Linked DNA regions of Homo sapiens. The protein of the gene in region 1 purifies or fractionates together with the protein of each later gene. This does not show direct contact. Each region holds a gene or a part of one and is shown on either strand. Other genes may lie near its edges.

Region 1 (3,734 bases):
ATTTATCACCTAAAAAAAAACATAGTCAGAGTTGGCATACAGGCCATAGTTTGTCAACTTCTGCTTTAGAGGGACATTAATCTTGCAAGACTGTGAGAGATTTCATTCTGCTTTCATCAGATTCTTGAAGAGGTCTATGACACCAAATTCTAAATTTGTGATTCCCAAAATAGCAATTTTCTCCATTAATGTACATGAGATGGTAGAGAACAACCAAACTCATATTCAGAGCCACAACATATAGTTGGACAGTACACCCTACCTGTTCTGTATGGTGATAAGTTATAGCCATGGCTAGGCTCACTAGGTAAGTGACTTGCTCTTTAAGTATGCTCAATGAAAATCTGTTTCTCATCAAAATGGCTAACTGCTCTAGGCAAATAATAATAATGATATATTTTAATATCCACTGATACCCCTTAGTATGTCCCTGGCATTACAGTTAGTGCTTTACATGCAATATCTCACTTAATCCTCACAACCATGTGAGAACTATTATTGTCCCCTTTTTGTTGAATGAGGAGACTGAGGCTTGAGGTGTTTGATAACTTGCCCCAGGTAACAGAACTAGTAAATGCTGGATCTGGGATTTCGATTCAAGTCTTATTCTATAACCTGTGCTCACAATCACTACTGTTTCTCATGGCCAAAAAAAAAAAAATGTTTTATTCTACATATGAAACGTGGAAATGGTGAATCCCAAGGTTATACTGTATAATAAACGCCAAATGATATATTGTTATGTACTGCGTGTTGGTGTCCCCCCAAAATTCACATGTTGAGACCCTATCTCCCCCATTGTGATGGTATTAGGAGATGGAGAGCTTTAGGAAGTGGTTAGAATTAGAGGAAGTGATGAGGGTACAGCCTTTGTGAATGGGATCAGTAGTGCCCTTATGAATCTTGAGAGAGCCTGCTTCCCTCTCTTCTCTGCCATGTGAGAATACAATGAGAAGTAGGCTGTCTACAAGCCAGAAGAGGGTCTTCACCAGAACCTGACCATGTTGGCACCCTGATCTCAGAATTTCAGTCTCTAGAACTGTGAGAAATAAATTTCTGTTGTTTATAAGCCACCCAGTCTATGGTATTTTTTACAGCAGCTCAAACTGACCAAGACATCTATGATAAGAATGAGTAAGTAGCACTGGCATCTCTTTCTCCCTCTGCATTGTCTCCATAGAATGCTTTTCATATACCACATCACCCAAGACAGGCAAATAAAGGGTTCCAGAATCTAGATGTGTGAGGAAAAGACATTAGCTTGGAAAGGTTTTGGTCCCACTGTTAAGCTGTAGTATGTTTCATCTTCATAAAGATACTCTGGAATTAAAAGGCATGTGGAAAAATGACCATACATTATATTCTTGTGAGAATATGGTCACTGGTAGATTATTCAGAGTCTAAAAACTGTATAGCTCCTCTTGATTAGAAAAGAGAGAGGACAGAGGAAAATAGTAAAACTCATATCATGTTTGTTATTCAATGACAGTTTTTATGAAGATTAAGTGAGAGGAGGAGGCTGAAATTAGAGACTAACTTCCAGTTTTAAATTAGATAATCTATAGACAATGGAAAGAACTTAGACTTTGATGTCAAGAAGATCTAGGCCATAAACAGAACTCTGCTACTCACAAGCTATATGATTTGGGGCAACTTATTTTAGCTCCCTGAGTCTCAGTCTCTTCATCATAAAATGGGAATAATTACCGATCCAGCAGAGGTTTTTGTTTTGCTTTGTGGGTAAGGGCTGAATAACATAATATACTTCTAGCTCTCTGCATCACAGTATGTGCTCGATAAAGGGTGCATATTATTATTATTCCCCAACCGCTGAATTAGCCACCTTCCTTTGCAATAAGACAACTTAGCGGGTTTTATAATTCACATTGTAATTATATAGATATCTATATAGGTATCTATATAGATAAACCTATGCAAATCAATATGAATACATTGTCAAAATGGTATTAAACACTTTGTCACCTTCTTTTTGATCACAGTAAAATCACAGCAGTATTTGTTTAGAAAGTATAATTGTCACTGCTTGGTCCCACAAAGTGTTTATTGCCAGTATGGAATACTAGCAATGTTATAAGTATTATAATGGATAATATTTCTAATATTTGATGCTGAAAGTTCTTTTGGTGCCTAAACTTAGTAAAACTAAACTTAATAAAAATAAAAGTCTTAAGATTGACAGGGAGACTGATAGGTAAATAGCACAAAAAATGGAAGCTGACATTTCTTTATGTAGGTGTGACTCATCCCTTTAAAATTACAGAATCTAGAAAGGCCCATTTTCCCCCACCTAATAGCTCAAATTTATAAAGTTATATTAAATGCTTCACCTAATCAACCTGTCAGTGTTACTCTATATACTCACATTAAAAGATCTATATTATGAACTATGTGATAATTTAAAGCAATTGCAGATACTTAAGTACCTCATAACCTAAAAAGAAACAGAAACCACAGATATGAGAAAGACAAAATATTTATGGGGAGAACACATCTTAAGTTCAAACCACTAATGATAATGCTATCAAATTATTTAAGAAAAGAATGAAAACAAAATTGACTTATACCCAACAAACCTGAAGTGGATTCTGATTTGGTCTTTGCTTCAGAGCTGAGTTCTGTTGGCAAGGGCACTGAGTGTTTCAAGACGTGAGTTGTTTTTGCAGGTACTTCTATTTCGGAAGAGGATCCTAGCTGTTTACCAAACAGATTTTTCCTTCATAAGTAAATCATTTTACTATTTCCTTCATCTACTTTCTCATTTTATCCTCGACCTCTGTCCAGTACCCTCATTACAAGCCAACACCCACCCAAACAAAACTCAATGTTGACCGTCTTGCTCCATGTAAACTCTACCTTAGTTTTTTCTTTAGGTTTAGGGAGTGACTCTTCTTTGCTGCTTTTTGTCCACAATGATTTAACTGCTCCAAAAATTTGCTGGCTTGTAGCATATACCTTTTTTGCTGTTACCTAATTAAAACAAAAAGTAAGTCAAATAACATATTTTTAAAAGTTAAAATTAAAAATGTATTTTAGATTTGTCAGGTATTTTATATGAACACTCAAGTCAGAATCAATAAAGATATAAATCTCTAAATCATATAACACAAAGCACCATTTCTAAAATCTTATATGAAAAATTTTTTGTGTCATGCAAAGGTTATAAGAAATGTATAATCTGCATTCACATTGTAACATAAATTTAAAACTATGTCTATTTTTTTAATTTTTTTCAGCTTTAGTGAGATTAGATTGACATATATAAAATTGTATCTATTTAAGGTATATAACACGGTGATTTGATATAAGTGAAAACTGTGTCTATTAACAGGAGTTTGGGGAATATAGTTTGAGATAATAAACTGCTGACTGAGAAAATGAGATTTTTAACATGCTACAAAGTTAATGCTTTTGCTTAAAATTTGATGGTGCTTTCTCCATTCATAAAGAAATAAAAGGCATCAACTAATTCCTCCAAAGAATAATATTCTTTTTTGGTAGAAAGGTAAAATAAACAATGACTGATAAATATACTCAAGCAGAGGCCAGGATGCTGGCTGAATTCCTAAAGTTACCGTTATTTTCATTCATCTCTATTTCTCTTTGAAAATCTACTTCTGATTTCTTCTTTTTCCTATTCTTCTCCAATGCTTTTGTTCATTTTAGTTAAAGTAATTTCAACAGCCATTGATTTTTCAAGTTTTGAAGATGTTTTG
Region 2 (3,734 bases), on another chromosome or scaffold:
ATGCCTGGCCAGGCCTGTCACTGTTATTAGACTTAAGGATGAAGTATATATAAAAACATAGATATAAATATTTATATATAAATATATATATTTATATATATAATTAGACTTCACCCAGGCTGGAGTGCAGTGGTGCAGTCGTGGCTCATAGCAGCCTCGACCTTCCCCGGCTCAGGTGATCCTCCCACCTCAGCCACCAGAGTAGCTGGTATTACAGGCACACACCACCACAGCTGGCTGATTTTTGTAGTTTTTGTAGAGACAGGGTCTCACTGTGTTGCCCAGGCTGGTCTCAAACTCCTGAGCTCAAGCAGTCCACCCATCTCAGCCTCCCAAAGTGCTGGGATTACAGGCATGAGCCACTGCACCCAGCCAAAAAATATTTCTTAAATTTTTTTTTTTTTTTTACTTCTCCCAATGAGTGAAGGCACTTTCCATATTTATGGCTATATGGCTATAGGTTAAATCCATATGAAACATGCTCCCTTGCAGAAGTCACTTTCTGTTGTCTTCGTCAGCAAACTCGGTGTTAAATGTCATACTCAGGTGTGGTGTGCTGGTTTTCCATCCCGGGATTCCATTAGAAGCTCTGAAGGTGATGTCTGAACTTGATATTTGCTGGAATTTTTTGTGTGAAATCAAACGTGAAGTTGAAATAACGTGATTTAGTTGGAAAAAAGTCAGAGTAATCTTAAATCTTAATGTGTGGTTGGAAGAATATCTTAATACCTGTTTGTGTGTTTGCTGTCAGTTCTAGAGTAGTTGCCATTTAAGTATAGCTGTGAGAGGCAAGGCCCTGTTCCCACTGATACTTCAAAGTACCTTCAAAAGAGTGTCCTCAAAACTCTCAATGTTCAGTAGAGTTCAGAGAGTTTTCTTTAGAAATCTCAAATGGAAACAATTCTAGACAAAACCAGGGAATCCTACTTTAAAATTATAAGCATAGGCTGGGCGCGTGGCTCAAGCCTGTAATCCCAGCACTTTGGGAGGCCAAGACGGGCGGATCACGAGGTCAGGAGATGGAGACCATCCTGACTAACACGGTGAAACCCCGTCTGTACTAAAAATACAAAAAATTAGCCGGGCGTGGTGGCGGGCGCCTGTAGGAGGCTGAGGCAGGAGAATGGTGTGAACCCAGGAGGCGGAGCTTGCAGTGAGCCGAGATTGCGCCACTGCACTCCAGCCTGGGTGACAGAGCAAGACTCTGTCTCAAAAAAAAAAAAATTATAAGCATAATAGAGGTATATAATTGGATTAATATAGAAATGTCAACAATCAGCTGAAGAATCTCCCTCTCCAGGATTTAAACTTTAAAATATCCCCTTAAATTTGTATTCTAGAGCAGGGGTCCTCAACCCCCTGGCCATGGACCAGTACTGGTCTGTGGCTTGTTAGGAATTGGGCCGCACAGCAGGAGGTGAGTGGTGGGCAAGCAAGCGGTTAGCGTCGGGCAAGCAAGCGGTTAGCATCGGGCAAGCAAGCATCACCGCCTGAGCTCTGCCTGTCAGATTGGTGGTGGCATTAGCTTCTCATAGGAGCATGAACCCTATTGGGAACTGCACATGCAAGGGATCTAGGTTAGGTCCTCTTTATGAGAATTTGACTAATGCCTGATGATCCCAGGTGGAACAGTTTCATTCCACTCCCACTAGTCTGTGGAAAAATTATCTTCCATGAAACCAGTCCGTGGTGCTAAAAGGTTGGAGACCCCATTGTTGCCGCCGTTGGAGAGAGTGAAGCAGGCAGCTGGAAAGGACCCCCCGTTCTCCTATGACAAGACACATGATCTTTAATGATTCTCCTTCTAGATTTCCTGTTTACAGAGCAGGGCCATCATCTGTCGTGCCTGCCTCACACTGAGAGGAGGGAGTACTTTATCACTCACTGGGCACACCAAAGCCAGACAGGTTTTCTGGTTTAGTGTTAGATGCATCATCTGGTTCCTAAAATCTCACTCCTCTGAGATTTCCAGGATGATTTTCCAAAATTTATTTGGAGAAAGGATTCCTTAACTATAAATCAGAGTTAAATTTACCTGATCCATTAATTAGGAAATTTAATTGACACATTTCAAACCTAATTTATTCCCAAGACAAATGGCTACAGTTCTAACTTTATCATTGTCTTTGAAAGAATTTCATTTTTGCAGTGTTTGTAACCTGTTTGAAGACCTCTGGTCCCAATTGTTTTAACCTTAAGGAGCCATCCTCCTTTTCAACTTTTAAACACTTTTGGAAAAACACAGTTAAGTAAAAAATGAAGTTGTTAATAAATAGTTTTTTTCTTGCAGTCCATATATGGAGGTCAGTGTTCTGAGATCTTCATCCTTCCAGAACAGCCATGAAACTAGAAGTACAAAAGTATCACCTACCAGTAAAAAGTTTACCCCAAGTCCCTGCATTTTCATTCCTTCTCTGGTACAGGGTAGATCATTATTTTCACAATTGTGTGTTGTTGGGGTTTCCTTAGCTGCAGGTTACAGCCACAGAGTGAGGCCCAACAGTTGAGTTTGAGCTGCAGATGGAAAGGAAGGGCTAGAAGAGTAGAGGAAGGTCCCCTGGTCACTGGCAAGATTGTCCTAGGGTCAAAGTCACCCACAAAGAAGGAGACAGCAGACCCTCCAATCAGGACCACTGACTCAGCCATCTGCAGAAATTGACATGTAAAAGGCTCAACTGTGCCAATTTGAGCGACTCAAATACCTAAAGCAGTGAGGTGGTGTGTGTTTACACATTTATTGCTTTCTTATCAAACTTCATGATGGGCAGTTAATTTTGTCTTAATAAAAAATAAAGATGGCTCTGAAAAGGTCAGTTCCTTCATTTTCCATCTACTACATTATGTTAAAGTTTGATATTTATAATGACTCCAGTTAAATGTGTGCCTCAGGCACATAGAATTAAGCCTCGGTTGTCCAAAAACAACTTATTCAGATGTCTGCATTCCATAGGGTGTTCTGTAAGCCAAGAGGCTGAGAAGCAAGAATTTCAGCCCATGCTGCCTGCCTCTTGTGTGACCTTCAACGAGTCATTTAACCTCAGCCTCTACTTACCTGCAGAATGGAGGCACCAGTACTTCTTAGTTAACAATGGGATAGAGGGAGGCCACTATGTAGGGCTTTGCAGCTGGAGTCCAGTATTCAAATCCCATTTTACTCTTCTGGAAGTTCTATGCTTCAACGCTAGTAATTTAACCTTTCTGTTTCTCAATTTCTTTTTTTTTTTTTGAGATGGAGTCTCACACTGTCACCCTGGCTGGAGTGCAATGGCGCAATCTCAGCTCACTGCAACCTCCACCTCCTAGGTTCATGCAATTCTCCTGCCTCAGCCTCCCAAGTAGCTGGGATTACAGGCACACACCAGTACACCCGGCTAATTTTTTTTTTTTTTTTTTTTTTTTTTTTTTTAGTAGAGATAGGGTTTCACTATGTTGGCCAGACTGGTCTCAAACTCCTGACGTCGTGATCCATCCGCCTCGGCCTCCCAAAGTGCTGGGATTACAGGCATGAGCCACTGCACCTGGCCATCAGTTTCTTTAATGTTAGAATGTAGGTAACAGGTAATAATGGCTTAAGCACTTACTGTAGGCCAGGATGACCTGTGTGGTATGTGCGTTGCTAGGTGCTGAGAATGTATATAAATTGCCTGTCATAAGTAGGTATTTAGTTAATATATATTGTTATTTCTTGGATTTTGATAAGTTTGAAGTTTTGCTTACTTTAAAAAAAGACATAA
Region 3 (3,500 bases), on another chromosome or scaffold:
CAAAGTGCTGAGATTACAGGTGTGAGCCACTGCGCCCAGCAGACACATCTATTTTTAAATACCATGGATAAGTTTAATCCTCCTTTGATAGAAATAAAAGTAAAACAACACTAGTAAACTTTTAAAACAGGGTGTACCTTTTTCAGGAACAATATGATTCAAAGGGTGGACACACTAACTTCAATCTATGCTCATGTGCAAATTTGAGCAACTTTCCAAATGAGAAACAGATATAATACACAGCATTATTAAGTCAACAAACTTAATATGCTGACATGGAAACAGTCACTCGCACATGGCCCTACTGTATATTTATTAACTATATTTACTAACACTAAGTATAACTTCTACCGTTACCCCTGTTTTTCGTTATCCATTCCAAAATGCTTTTGTTGTTCTTTCTTCTCCTTTAATTTTTGCCAGTTCTACAACAATACTTCCAAAGATATAGAATAATGTACTTTAAGCCCCAAAAGAAAATTCTGGAGAAAAAAAAGGAATCTATTTTAGAGAATAAACTTTCTTTGGATAGACTTTGTCCAACCCAAGCACAACTCAATGTAAGCTTGAGATATATCTTTTAAACTTTTTATTATACGGACATAGAAAGACTATTCCAGCATCAGCCCCCTCCCCGCACTCCTCAGTCTGCTTCAATAATCAGTAACTCATCGCTAAGCTTGTTTTCTCAAGACGCCCATCCTCATCCCCAACCCCAGAGTATTTCAAAAGAAATCCAAGATCTCATATAATTTCACCTATACATATTAAAACAAGCATTTGAAAGTTTCAACAAAGCTAATTATTACAAGAGACTCTCCTGTCAAGCACATGTCCCTACTAAGAGTGCATATTCGTCTTACCTTTGCCTCATTAATGGAATATTAATGCAATTAGCAGCAGCTACGGCAGCAAAGGGAACAAAACGTCCTATCAGTGGTGAGACATGCTGCAGAGGAGAAAATTTCAAGAGCTTTATCTTATTTTTCCTGTACTAGTAAATGGAAATAACTTATTTCTTCTTGAAAACTCTGAAAAATGCAGAGTCCCATTTGCATAGAAACTCAGGCCAAGAATGCTTTCAAAACTTTTCCTAGCAGTATTTGTATATTTCCCACATGGGTGTGCTGGGACCATGCAAGCTTCTAAGGCCTTGTAGCTAAGTGTGGTTGCAGGAGTATGGGCTTTGGAGTGGGGAGAGAGAGAGAGAGAGAGAGATGCTCTTGCCTCTCTTCAGAGCTGTGGCCTGAGGCACACTGCCCTCTGCAATGCCTCTGGTGGGCTGTCAGGATGGGTGAACATTTAGCACTTCGTACACAGAGTCAGGCACAGACCACAGTCCTGGTAGGTGTTACTGGTGACAACTCTTCCCAAACTTATTGGAAGATATAACTAAAATATGCAGCTGAAGATAAGCACTATAACAAGAAAGCCATATGACTTGAACTAGTTTAAGAAATAATAGAGGGATTTAGAGCCAGGCAGGTGATAACAAATTAAACAGCTTTATTATGGAAATAAAAATCTGAGTACCTTGGTCAATGCATTGAGTCCTAGAGCTGTTGCTACGGCACCAGTTGTTGCAGAAACGTAAGCTGTTCCCAACTCACTGAAAAGAAAAAAGGATATCGTGTGGACGACGAGGGCATGTCAGGAAACTCTGGTGCAACATTATTTGAAGAAATAAAAGGGAAATATAAAAGAGCATGATTCAGAATGAAGAGTCTACAAAACAACATTCACTATCACTCCACAAGTAGGGGAATCTAGAGAAAAAGCAAGCAGATCCATAAACAATGGGATTCTTCACACGTATCTTGACTATAACTCCAAAAAAGTAGACATGTATTCTTTGAAGTGAGTTGGTTAAAATAAATAAATAAACATACAGACTTTGTATTCGTGAGAAGGAGGGGAGCTGTGTGTAGGAAGCTATGAATACAGGGGAATGCATATTGGGCTAAATGTTTGGGGCATATTTGCTTAAAAATATTTCTCAAAATATTAATATACACACTGAAAGCAAAAATGAAGTGCTGCCATTTAAAAAATGATATCTTAACTGTATAAAAATACTAAGTCTTATCATCCAAAAACTATAAAGCCCAAGCAATTCTCTCTTCTTTTAAAAGAAATTTTAATTGCAATAAACACCACTTGGCTGCAGATTTCAAGATCCTTTGTTCCATATAACAATAGTAGAAGAATATGTGTTGTCAAAAGCAATTTTAAGTGATAAAAAAGAGAAGCACTTTTCTTTCAAGTGTAATACAATTATGCTAACTAACGTTTTTGGTTAACTAATCTTGTGAGCCTATTTTTTTTTTAACAGGTGACAAAAAATTAAAACTCATTGCTTTCTTTTGGACTCCACAGATGAGCTATTTTAAAAACATATCAGATATAAAGTTCACACCGCCATGGTCTCCCCTTGATTTCTGCAGAGACCACACTTTGTCTCCTCTACTCTTAACGTTGGTGTCTGTCAACTCAGGCAGGGTAGATGGCGGAACAGCCTGTCACTTATCAGAGGCCAGGCCGGTGCTGCCTGCCATGTGTTCTACAGGGCCATGAGCTCCAGGGTGAGAAGGAGGTAACATCCTACCAGTACCTCCAAAGGCACGAGTAATGTCTGAGAAGGCAGGCTGGAAGAAGACTGTTTTCTTGATAGGGAGAGAGAAAATGAAACACTTTACTTTAAAAAAGAAAAAAGCTACAAAAAAGGATGCTACATAATATTCTGAACAATATAAAAATATGCACACATAGGCTTTTTTAAACAGGAGAGTATCACCACTTAATAAAATGAAGGTTGAAGAACTGCAGAGAGTGGTCAATTCTCGTAGCCTTACTTGACAGTGAGGGGTGCGTCTCCACTTCTGTTGGTGTAATTGACGACGGCATTGAAGGACTGGTTAATCCACTGCCAGAACAGCACAGCCGGCGTAGTCCTAAAACAGAGGCATCCGTCACATACCCACCATCACTGGGCCCAGCCGCGGCATGGAACAGAAAACGTGAACACCAGTAACCAGAGAGGAGACGTACTGGGGAAGGGAGAAAGCCATAAGGCCACACAGGCTTAGGATCTGTGTGCTGGGCAAGCTTTTATCCTCTGGGATCATCAGTTTCCTCATTCCGTAGATATAGATAACACCAAGCTCAGAGGGTTACTATGAGGATGAAGTAAGATAAAATTTGTAGAGAGCCTGGTACAGAATAGACATTCAATAAATGCCAGATCCCTTCTCTTGGGGAAAAAAGATACAATTTGTAGGCTAAGCGGTCCTGGGCCCTCCTAACAGCACTTGCAATGCTATATGTCTATGTCTACACATACACCTTTAATGTGCCTATATCTACACTTATACCTATACCTATATCTATATGAATGGAGTCAAAGGAGAATTTGCCTGCAGACTCTTTATTTTCCTTCTCCACTTCATTCTCTTTTGGGGCTAAGATTTAGAAAAAAAATTCAACCTCCTTTTGAACAACTA

Evidence for each region.
Region 2: the proteins of APOOL (region 1) and DNAJC11 purify together in Homo sapiens (affinity purification with mass spectrometry; one large-scale study listed by BioGRID and IntAct). This does not show direct contact.
Region 3: the proteins of APOOL (region 1) and SFXN1 purify together in Homo sapiens (affinity purification with mass spectrometry, with the first as the bait; one large-scale study listed by BioGRID). This does not show direct contact.

What each region holds. Positions count from the first base shown.
Region 1 is NC_000023.11:85,073,252-85,076,985, reverse strand, and holds part of APOOL (MICOS complex subunit MIC27 precursor), read right to left. Parts: intron 2,989-3,734; coding exon 2,875-2,988; intron 2,713-2,874; coding exon 2,595-2,712; coding exon of another isoform or gene 2,586-2,594; intron 1-2,585. UniProt on the Homo sapiens protein: Component of the MICOS complex, a large protein complex of the mitochondrial inner membrane that plays crucial roles in the maintenance of crista junctions, inner membrane architecture, and formation of contact sites to the outer membrane.
Region 2 is NC_000001.11:6,695,300-6,699,033, reverse strand, and holds part of DNAJC11 (dnaJ homolog subfamily C member 11), read left to right. Parts: intron 1-3,734.
Region 3 is NC_000005.10:175,509,560-175,513,059, reverse strand, and holds part of SFXN1 (sideroflexin-1), read right to left. Parts: intron 2,952-3,500; coding exon 2,853-2,951; intron 1,610-2,852; coding exon 1,534-1,609; intron 950-1,533; coding exon 864-949; intron 1-863. UniProt on the Homo sapiens protein: Amino acid transporter importing serine, an essential substrate of the mitochondrial branch of the one-carbon pathway, into mitochondria.